Linked DNA regions of Homo sapiens. The protein of the gene in region 1 purifies or fractionates together with the protein of each later gene. This does not show direct contact. Each region holds a gene or a part of one and is shown on either strand. Other genes may lie near its edges. The genes, in order: DGKD and SLC6A4.

Evidence for each region.
Region 2: the proteins of DGKD (region 1) and SLC6A4 purify together in Homo sapiens (affinity purification with western blotting, with the first as the bait; one study listed by BioGRID). This does not show direct contact.

What each region holds. Positions count from the first base shown.
Region 1 is NC_000002.12:233,455,429-233,459,240, reverse strand, and holds part of DGKD (diacylglycerol kinase delta), read right to left. Parts: intron 2,343-3,812; coding exon 2,246-2,342; intron 2,021-2,245; coding exon 1,913-2,020; intron 958-1,912; coding exon 844-957; intron 1-843.
Region 2 is NC_000017.11:30,215,170-30,218,981, forward strand, and holds part of SLC6A4 (sodium-dependent serotonin transporter), read right to left. Parts: intron 3,763-3,812; coding exon 3,628-3,762; intron 3,169-3,627; coding exon 2,949-3,168; intron 2,136-2,948; coding exon 1,997-2,135; intron 1,048-1,996; coding exon 913-1,047; intron 546-912; coding exon 442-545; intron 1-441.

The DNA.
Region 1 (3,812 bases):
CCAGTGGGTGTCATCAGCACCCTCCCCCGCCCCAGTGCCTGTGCCTGGGTACAGAGTCCTGCCCCATCCTCACAGAAAGACTGCCCTCAGCCCATCGCTGCTGTCAGAAATAAGCCATGGGGGCACCCCCAGCCCTTCACCACTCGGCCTCAGAACCATGATCGAGGGCCCCAGCTGGAAATCCTCCCACACCCCACATCAGAGCCATGGGCTCCGTCCCCACTGCGGCTTTGACAGCTGCAGACACGGGCAGAGTCCAGCCTGGGTCTGCTCTATCTCATCCCACCTCAGAGGGGACAGGCAAGGCTGTGGTTCAAGCAGGATACACATTTTGAAAGAGTTATCTTGGCCGGGTGCAGTGGCTCACACCTGTAATCCCAACACTTTGGGAGGCCAAGGTGGGTGGATCATTTGAGGTCAGGAGTTCGAGACCAGCCTGGCCAACATGGTGAAGTACAAAAATTAGCTGGGAATGGTGGTGGGCACTTGTAGTCCCAGCTACTCGGAAGGCTGAGGCGGGAGAATCACTTGAACCAGGGAGGTGGAGGTTGCAGCAAGCCGAGATTGCACCACTGCACTCCAGCCTGGGCAACAGAGCAAGACTCTGTCTCAAAAAAAAAAAAAAAAATTAAAAAGAGTTATCTTGAGAATTTAACTGTCAAGCATAGCACAAGGAAAGGGCTCTGGCCCAGGAAGTGGGGCCACGAGCTGTCCAGGACAGGACATGAGGCAGCCACATGGCCCTGGAAAGCGCCCACCCTCCCAGGCTCCATGCACTGCCCCAGAATTTAGCACACTCCGGGCTGGGGACTCGGCCAGACACCCCAGGACCATGGCCACTACCTGGGCGATCCGATGATGCTGTAGCCTGATGACTCGAGAGACGGCCATCTGCATGCTGCCGAACACGGCGACCACCTCCAGAATCTTGTCATCGAATGATGGAGCTGCGAAAGTCTGCAAGGGACACGTTAGAGCTGACCACCACTCCACACATCCCCGAGCACAGGCCGCCCCTACCCTCACTCCCTCCCTCTGGGGGTCAGCCCCTCCTAGCTGGCGAGAAGTTACCAGGTAACTGCACTCCTGACGGGCTTCATGTTGCAGGCCCTGAAACCAGCTGCCTGGGACCAAATCCCAGCTCTCATCTCGGCAAAGTTACTGAATCTCTCTCTCCCCCATTTCCTCATGCGTAAAATGGGGAAACTAACGGCACGCTCCTCCAGGGCCATCAGTAGGGCCAAGTGAGTTAACGCTGCAGAGTGCCAGGACTGGGGCCAGCACACACCACGTGTGCAGGAAGCGCTGAATACTTCTATTCGCTATTACGTACAAAGGAAGGTTTAAACCAGGTTTAAACCTATCAACACCTTCCCACAGTTCTTAACACAAATTCCAAACTTCTTCCCCAGCTCACACAGCCCAGTGTGACCCAGGCCCTGCAGCCCTCTCCTGTCTCTCCACGCCCCTGCTGCCCACTGCAGTCGGGGCACCTCTCTCCCATCCTCCATGTGCCTGCCCTGTCTTGACTCTGAGCCTTCATCTGTGCAATTCTCTCTGCCTGGAACAGCCTCCCCCTCTCCTCTGCCCACCTAACTTAGCCAACTCCAACTCATCCTTCAGGTCTTGGCCTCCCAGACACCTTCCCTGACCCTCCTTCCACGTCACACCCGCTGACCACATCTGCTGACCACAGACCCTCACTGACCACCTTCACTGACACAACTGCTCTGCTCAGCCCTCTAGACGATGAGCTGGGTGGGGGACCCTGTCTATCTTGTTCTCCACGGCAACCCCACTGCTGGCACAACAGAAGAGCTGGATCCACCCCAGCCACAGCAGAACACCCCCCTGCTCTCAGACAGCTCTTCCCCACTGAGCTCAGGCCCACCCGCTCACACCCCATACATACATCATCTTCCTTGGTACCCCCCCAGAAGTTGGTTCCTCCGGCATAGCTGGGAATGTTAAGGACAGCAATTCCCTGAAGACTGGGGAGTGGGATGGGTCGCCCGTCACACTGAGCAGCAGAGACACAGAACAAAAGAAAAGAGAAAGGTATGAGTCAGCCCCTCCTTCTCTACCAGCTTCCCACCGCCAGGGGCTCAGGAGCACAGCCGTGGCCAGGGCATCCCCAGGCAAGTCCCTGTGCATGGAGGAAATGGTCAACAGGAGAAGCAATAGGCCTGGCAGTCTGCTGATGGATGGAGGCCAGCCTGCAGGTGACAAGGACCCTCCCACTCACCTCCAGCAAGACCTTTTGCTCCAGGTTCTTGTAGGTTCTGTGCAGCAACTCTTTGGTTCCAAGAACTCCATACCACATCATGTTCTTGGTTCGGCTCCTAGAAACAGAAGCAAAGACTTGCCATAGGTCTGGGCTTTCTTCGTATAGTTAACCAGAGTCATTTCTGTGAAAGCTGGGAACAGCATCTGACCCACAAATCAGCTACATTTAGCAATTATTTACAGCAGTAACATCTGAAGGACACATTTTTGTTTTTGCAGATATGCATAAAAAGATACGTTTACCAATAGGAAATTTTGCTCAATAGTAACATTTTGCCAAGAAAGTAATCATACCCTGAAAGGTAAATACATAAAGTTAAAACATTATAGAACCCTATAAAAAAACTTCTACACATCCTGATTTTTTCTGGCTAAAAAATTATGCTTACCATAGAAAAACTGGAAAATATAGAAAAGCACCAAGGAGAAGACACTCCTCATAATCCTCCATGCATAATCCAGCACCTGTAGGCACCCTCCACACGTGCTAATGACAAATGCCAAGTGCTGCTATGTATTTCCTCAGTCTTCTTTGCATATTAATTTCCAGTTGCAGTAACTTGTTTACAGTTTCACGACCTACTTGGTCCACTTTACCCTGCGCCGGCAATGCTTCCTTCTGTGGCCACACGCTCTCTGCAGATGTGGCCATCCTCAGCCGGGCACTGCTCTACCACAGCTTATCGAACCAATCCCCTTGATTACACTCCTCCGCCCCATGCCTGAGCTCTGGAAATGACACGCTAGGAGTCCCTTCGTACCTACGTCAACCAACATTTCCAATGACTTCTGCAGAAATTTCCAATGACATTTGTACAAGTGGAATTTTTCTCAGGAGAACTTTTCAAAGCTCTCAATACAAACTCAAGAGAGGTTTGACCAGGGTTCCAAAGCTCTAGAAATGTATTATGCATGCCCCTGTTCCTCAACTACTTATTTTACCCTGCTAAAGTATGTGTATTTTAATACTTTTCCCAGTGATTTTTGGACTAACAGGGATTTTTAAATGATCTGACGTTACCATCCTGTGCTGTACAGGGATATGTCCCTGGGGCCCCTGAGCCATTTTCTCCTGCATGGAAGAGCCTCAGAGTCAAAAGTTCTTTCAGTTCTGATGCTTTTGTTTTCCTAGAAATTTTCAACTACATGTAACCTGAGCAATGACTAAAGCTGGACCCTCAGGTGTCAGCATGGCTCCCCGCAAGGTGGCAGTGACGCCATGAGGAGGGCGAGGCCACAGGGGGCCACGTGGCTTGGTTCATTCAAGCCCATCCTGACTCAGCGGACGAAGACTCCAGCAAGGGTCTCCCAGCTTCTGGGTCAAGGGCTGTTCTCTGCACAAACACCGTCAACCCCCACACTCATTTCTCCCTCTCTGTAGTTCTAATCATGTCAAAGCTGAATGGCCTCTCTGATTATTACTGTGGGGTGGGGAGGGAGACATTTCTCCCTCACTTCTTGTGTTTCACAGACAAGAGAGAATTCTACATCAGCCCAGGAAGAAAAGCTTGAGAAGAGGGACCCTT
Region 2 (3,812 bases), on another chromosome or scaffold:
GTGGCTGTGCTTACAGGTGTGCAACACCATGCCTGGCTAATCTTTGTATTTTTAGTACAGACAGGGTTTCGCCATGTTGGCCAGGTTAGCCTGGAACTCCTGACCTCAGGTGATCCACCTGCCTTGGCCTCCCAAAGTGCTGGGATTACAGGCGTGAGCCACCATGTCCAGCCTCTTATTATTTTTATATACAGGAGCGCTGACAAAACCGAAGGGCATGGGGCCCCTCTCAGCCTGAGTGGCCCAGGTGAAGCCACGGCCTGGATGAGTGCTCTGGCCATGGGTGAGCTGGTCAGGGGCCTGCAGCACCCCTGAGGGGCAGTGGTATCAAGGCCTAAGCCTGGCCAGATTCGAGGCCGTCGGTCCAATCACCTTCCTCCACACTAGCTGACTTTCACTCACGCCACTTTCAAGCTTTGCTTGGGGACCCCAGATACTCACTGGTAGCAGTTGTTGTTGAACTTGTTGTAGCTAGCAAAAGCCAGCAGGACCCCAAAGCCCGGACCAAGAGAGAAGAAGATCTGAGCGGCTGCATCTATCCACACCTGGAACACAGCAGGGGTAAGGGCATGGGGTGAGGGGGAGACACAGGCTTACCCTGGCACCAACAGGGTCGCCACTCCTGCCTCCATGTGGCTAAGTGCAGAGGCAGAAAAACAGCTTTTAAGGCTCATTCCAGGCATAGCCATAAACCAAGTGCCAACAAATGTGATTTCTCTTCCTATGATTCAGGCATAAACCCATCCAGTGGCCTCAACTGTACTTTAATGCTTGTATTTCTTGGTTAAAGTATCATTGCAGACTTGCACACTGAAGCCACATTTCAGTTGTCCCTACTGTCCTATTTGGAGGAGGACCAGCTTCGTTTAGTAAAATGACAGACAGGTACACATATTTCCCTCATCATCTTACCCCTGTCTCCAGGAGTTTCTGCCAATTGGGTTTCAAGTAGAAGAGAACACCCCTCCAGGCTCCAGGGAGGGTGGCACCCCTCACCAGCAGGACAGAAAGGATGATATAAGGGAAGGTGGCTGTCACCCACACCACCTGTAAGGAAGAAGGGTTATCACCATGCTGTTCCAGGGAGGGGAGGGGAGGGGAGGGGAGAAGGAGAAGGGAGCGGGGGAGGGGAGGGGAGGGGAGGGAGGTGGGTGAATGGATGTCAGTGTCTTTTATTCTTGAAGACCTTGAGAAAGGAGGGCGAGGTGGTGTGGCAGAAAGATCACAACCCTTGGAGTCACACAGGGATCGGATTCAGGTTGGCCAGGAGAACTACCTCTGAGCCCACTATGCATCTGTAAGGTTGAGGGAGTATCTAGCAGGAAACAATAGCACTGGCCAGTGTATAAAAAGCACTGAACATGGTCCATGATGGGTTTCCAGTAAGTCATTGCCACGATTATTAATTGTGGTACTACCAGTGGGTTGAAGGAATCTTGAAAAAAAAAAATCATGTAATGGTTCTTGGCATTGGCCCATTTCTAGAAAATATTCTTTTTTCTTTTCCTTTTTTTTTTTAGTGAGACAGAATTTCACTCTGCTGCCCAGGAGTGTAATGGCATGATCTTGGCTCACAGAAATCTCCACCTCCCAGGTTCAAGTGATTCTCTTGCCTCAGCCTCCCGAGTAGCTGGGATTACAGGCACCTGCCACCACACCTGGCTATTGTTTTTTTTTGTTTGTTTGTTTGTTTGTTTGTTTGTTTGTTTAAGTAGAGATGAGGTTTCGATGTGTTGGCCAGGCTGGTCTTGAACTCCTGGCCTCAAATGATCCACCCACCTCAGCCTCCCAAAGTGCTGGGATTAGAGACGTGAGCCACCATGCCCAACCCACTTCTAGAATTTTCTAACAAATGCGGTGAAGAGAGAGAGGGTGCATCATGGAATGTGTTTGGTGTGGAAGGAAACAGTGCTGTCTGTCCAGGCTACTGGGTTTTGAGTTTGAGAGCCTGTGGGCCCCTGGGCAGGCCTGGGTCAGCAGCCAGAGCCTTCCTCACCTTGCCAGAGGTCTTGACGCCTTTCCAGATGCTGAAGTAGATAACAGTGAAGATCAGCATGATGCAGAGGGCCAGCTGCCAGCTGATGCCCCCCAGGTCCTGGAGCCCCTTAGACCGGTGGATCTGCAGGACGTGGCGCCTGGGGTGAAGGAGAAAGAAAGGCCCCTGAGAGGCTCTGTAGAGTGACCTGGGCACACATCTGTGCTGCTCCTTTGAGGGTGCCCGGGACAAATGGACACGGTGCTGCTAGGACCAAGTGGTCACTGAGGCCCAGGAAGAGCTGGGATTGGCCCTGCCTGTCCTGAAGGACCACAAAGCACATTTGGCCAACACCCTGGGAAGAGTGTTCAACCTAAAGGCAGACTTCCTGGATTCTCCTTTGCTGGATGGGACCTGAACTCCTTTGACCAATGTGACTGGCTTTTGGGAACATGAGGGATGTGTAAGTGTGGGGAGTTGGCTCCCTTCCCTACCCCAAAGTAGCTCTCTCTTTGGGCTGCCATTGCCTGAAATTCCAGCATTAAAGAAAACTACCTTCCTCAAGCATCTTCTTCCAAAGGGTAGATCCCACTTACGAAGTTGACACATTAAACCATTTGAATAGTTTTGAACTATCAAAGTACTAGGATGCTTCGCCTCCATGACATTTGGCTGAGAGGAGGACCCCGGAAGAAGGGGAGTAATTTTGGAATGTGAAGGGAGGGACGGGCTTGGGCGCATTGGAGCAAACTGACTTGGCGCATGAGAAAGTGCAAGGAGGCACAGCAGGGCCAGGCCGTGGAGCACTTGAGGTAGAGTTTCCCAGCTCCAAATTCTGCTACTCCCACCCCTGATAGCTTCATCTCTCAGAAAGGGGTGAGGAGCCCTTGGCCCTGGCCTTCTTTTTAAGAAGCCAAACCCCAGGGGTGTGGCCTGCCCCTAACAGGCCAACCCCTCACTTACGTGCACTTACGTGTAAAATTCTTCAGCAGGGGACGTGGAATGGAGGGTCCAGGTGATGTTGTCCTCGGAGAAGTAATTGGTGCAGTTGCCAGTGTTCCAGGAGTTCTTGCAGCTGGTCCAGGGCAGCTGGTCCGTGAAGGAGGAGATGAGGTAGTATAGCGCCCAGGCCATGATGGTGTTGTAGTAGGAAGCAATGTAAAAGGCAATGATGCAGATGGCATAACCAATCCCTGGGCAGTGGGTGAGATGGAGAGACAGAGGCCGAGTTTAAGGGTGGCCCAACGGCAAAAGGCTGAAACGGGGCACTGGAGAGCCCCGCAGCCCAGCAGAGGGGTACACGTGGGTGCTGCCCTCCATTCCATTCCAAGGACTCCAGGCCACCGTGGGAAAAGTGGCCCTGCCGTTAGTCACTCATATGTATTTGCAAGGTAACATGTTTTAGAAAATGTGTACATGTCCTGTTAATGCTTTAAAATGTTTACATTAGTTTACTTCTCATTGCCGTTTATTCTGTTTCTCTTTGACAATTTCACACCACTTACGCAGTCAAAACCTTAATTACTCAAGCAGTCTCCCAGGGATGCCTAAGGCCTGACTGATTCCAGAAGAAGGTCCCCAGCTCCCACCCACTGATGGAAATCCCTTCCTGAGAGGCTCCACTTACCCACCCCACCGAGCCCTTCAGTTACCTTTGAAAATCGGGCAGATTTTCCTCCATATTGAAATGCATCCATTTCGGTGGTACTGTCCCAGTGCGAGCTCCATGTAAAAGAGCGGGATTCCCCCAAAAATGGCCATGATGGTGTAGGGGAGGAGGAATGCCCCTGAGGCAGATGAAAGACAATTTCACTCCCTGCCCACGTCTGTCCCAGGA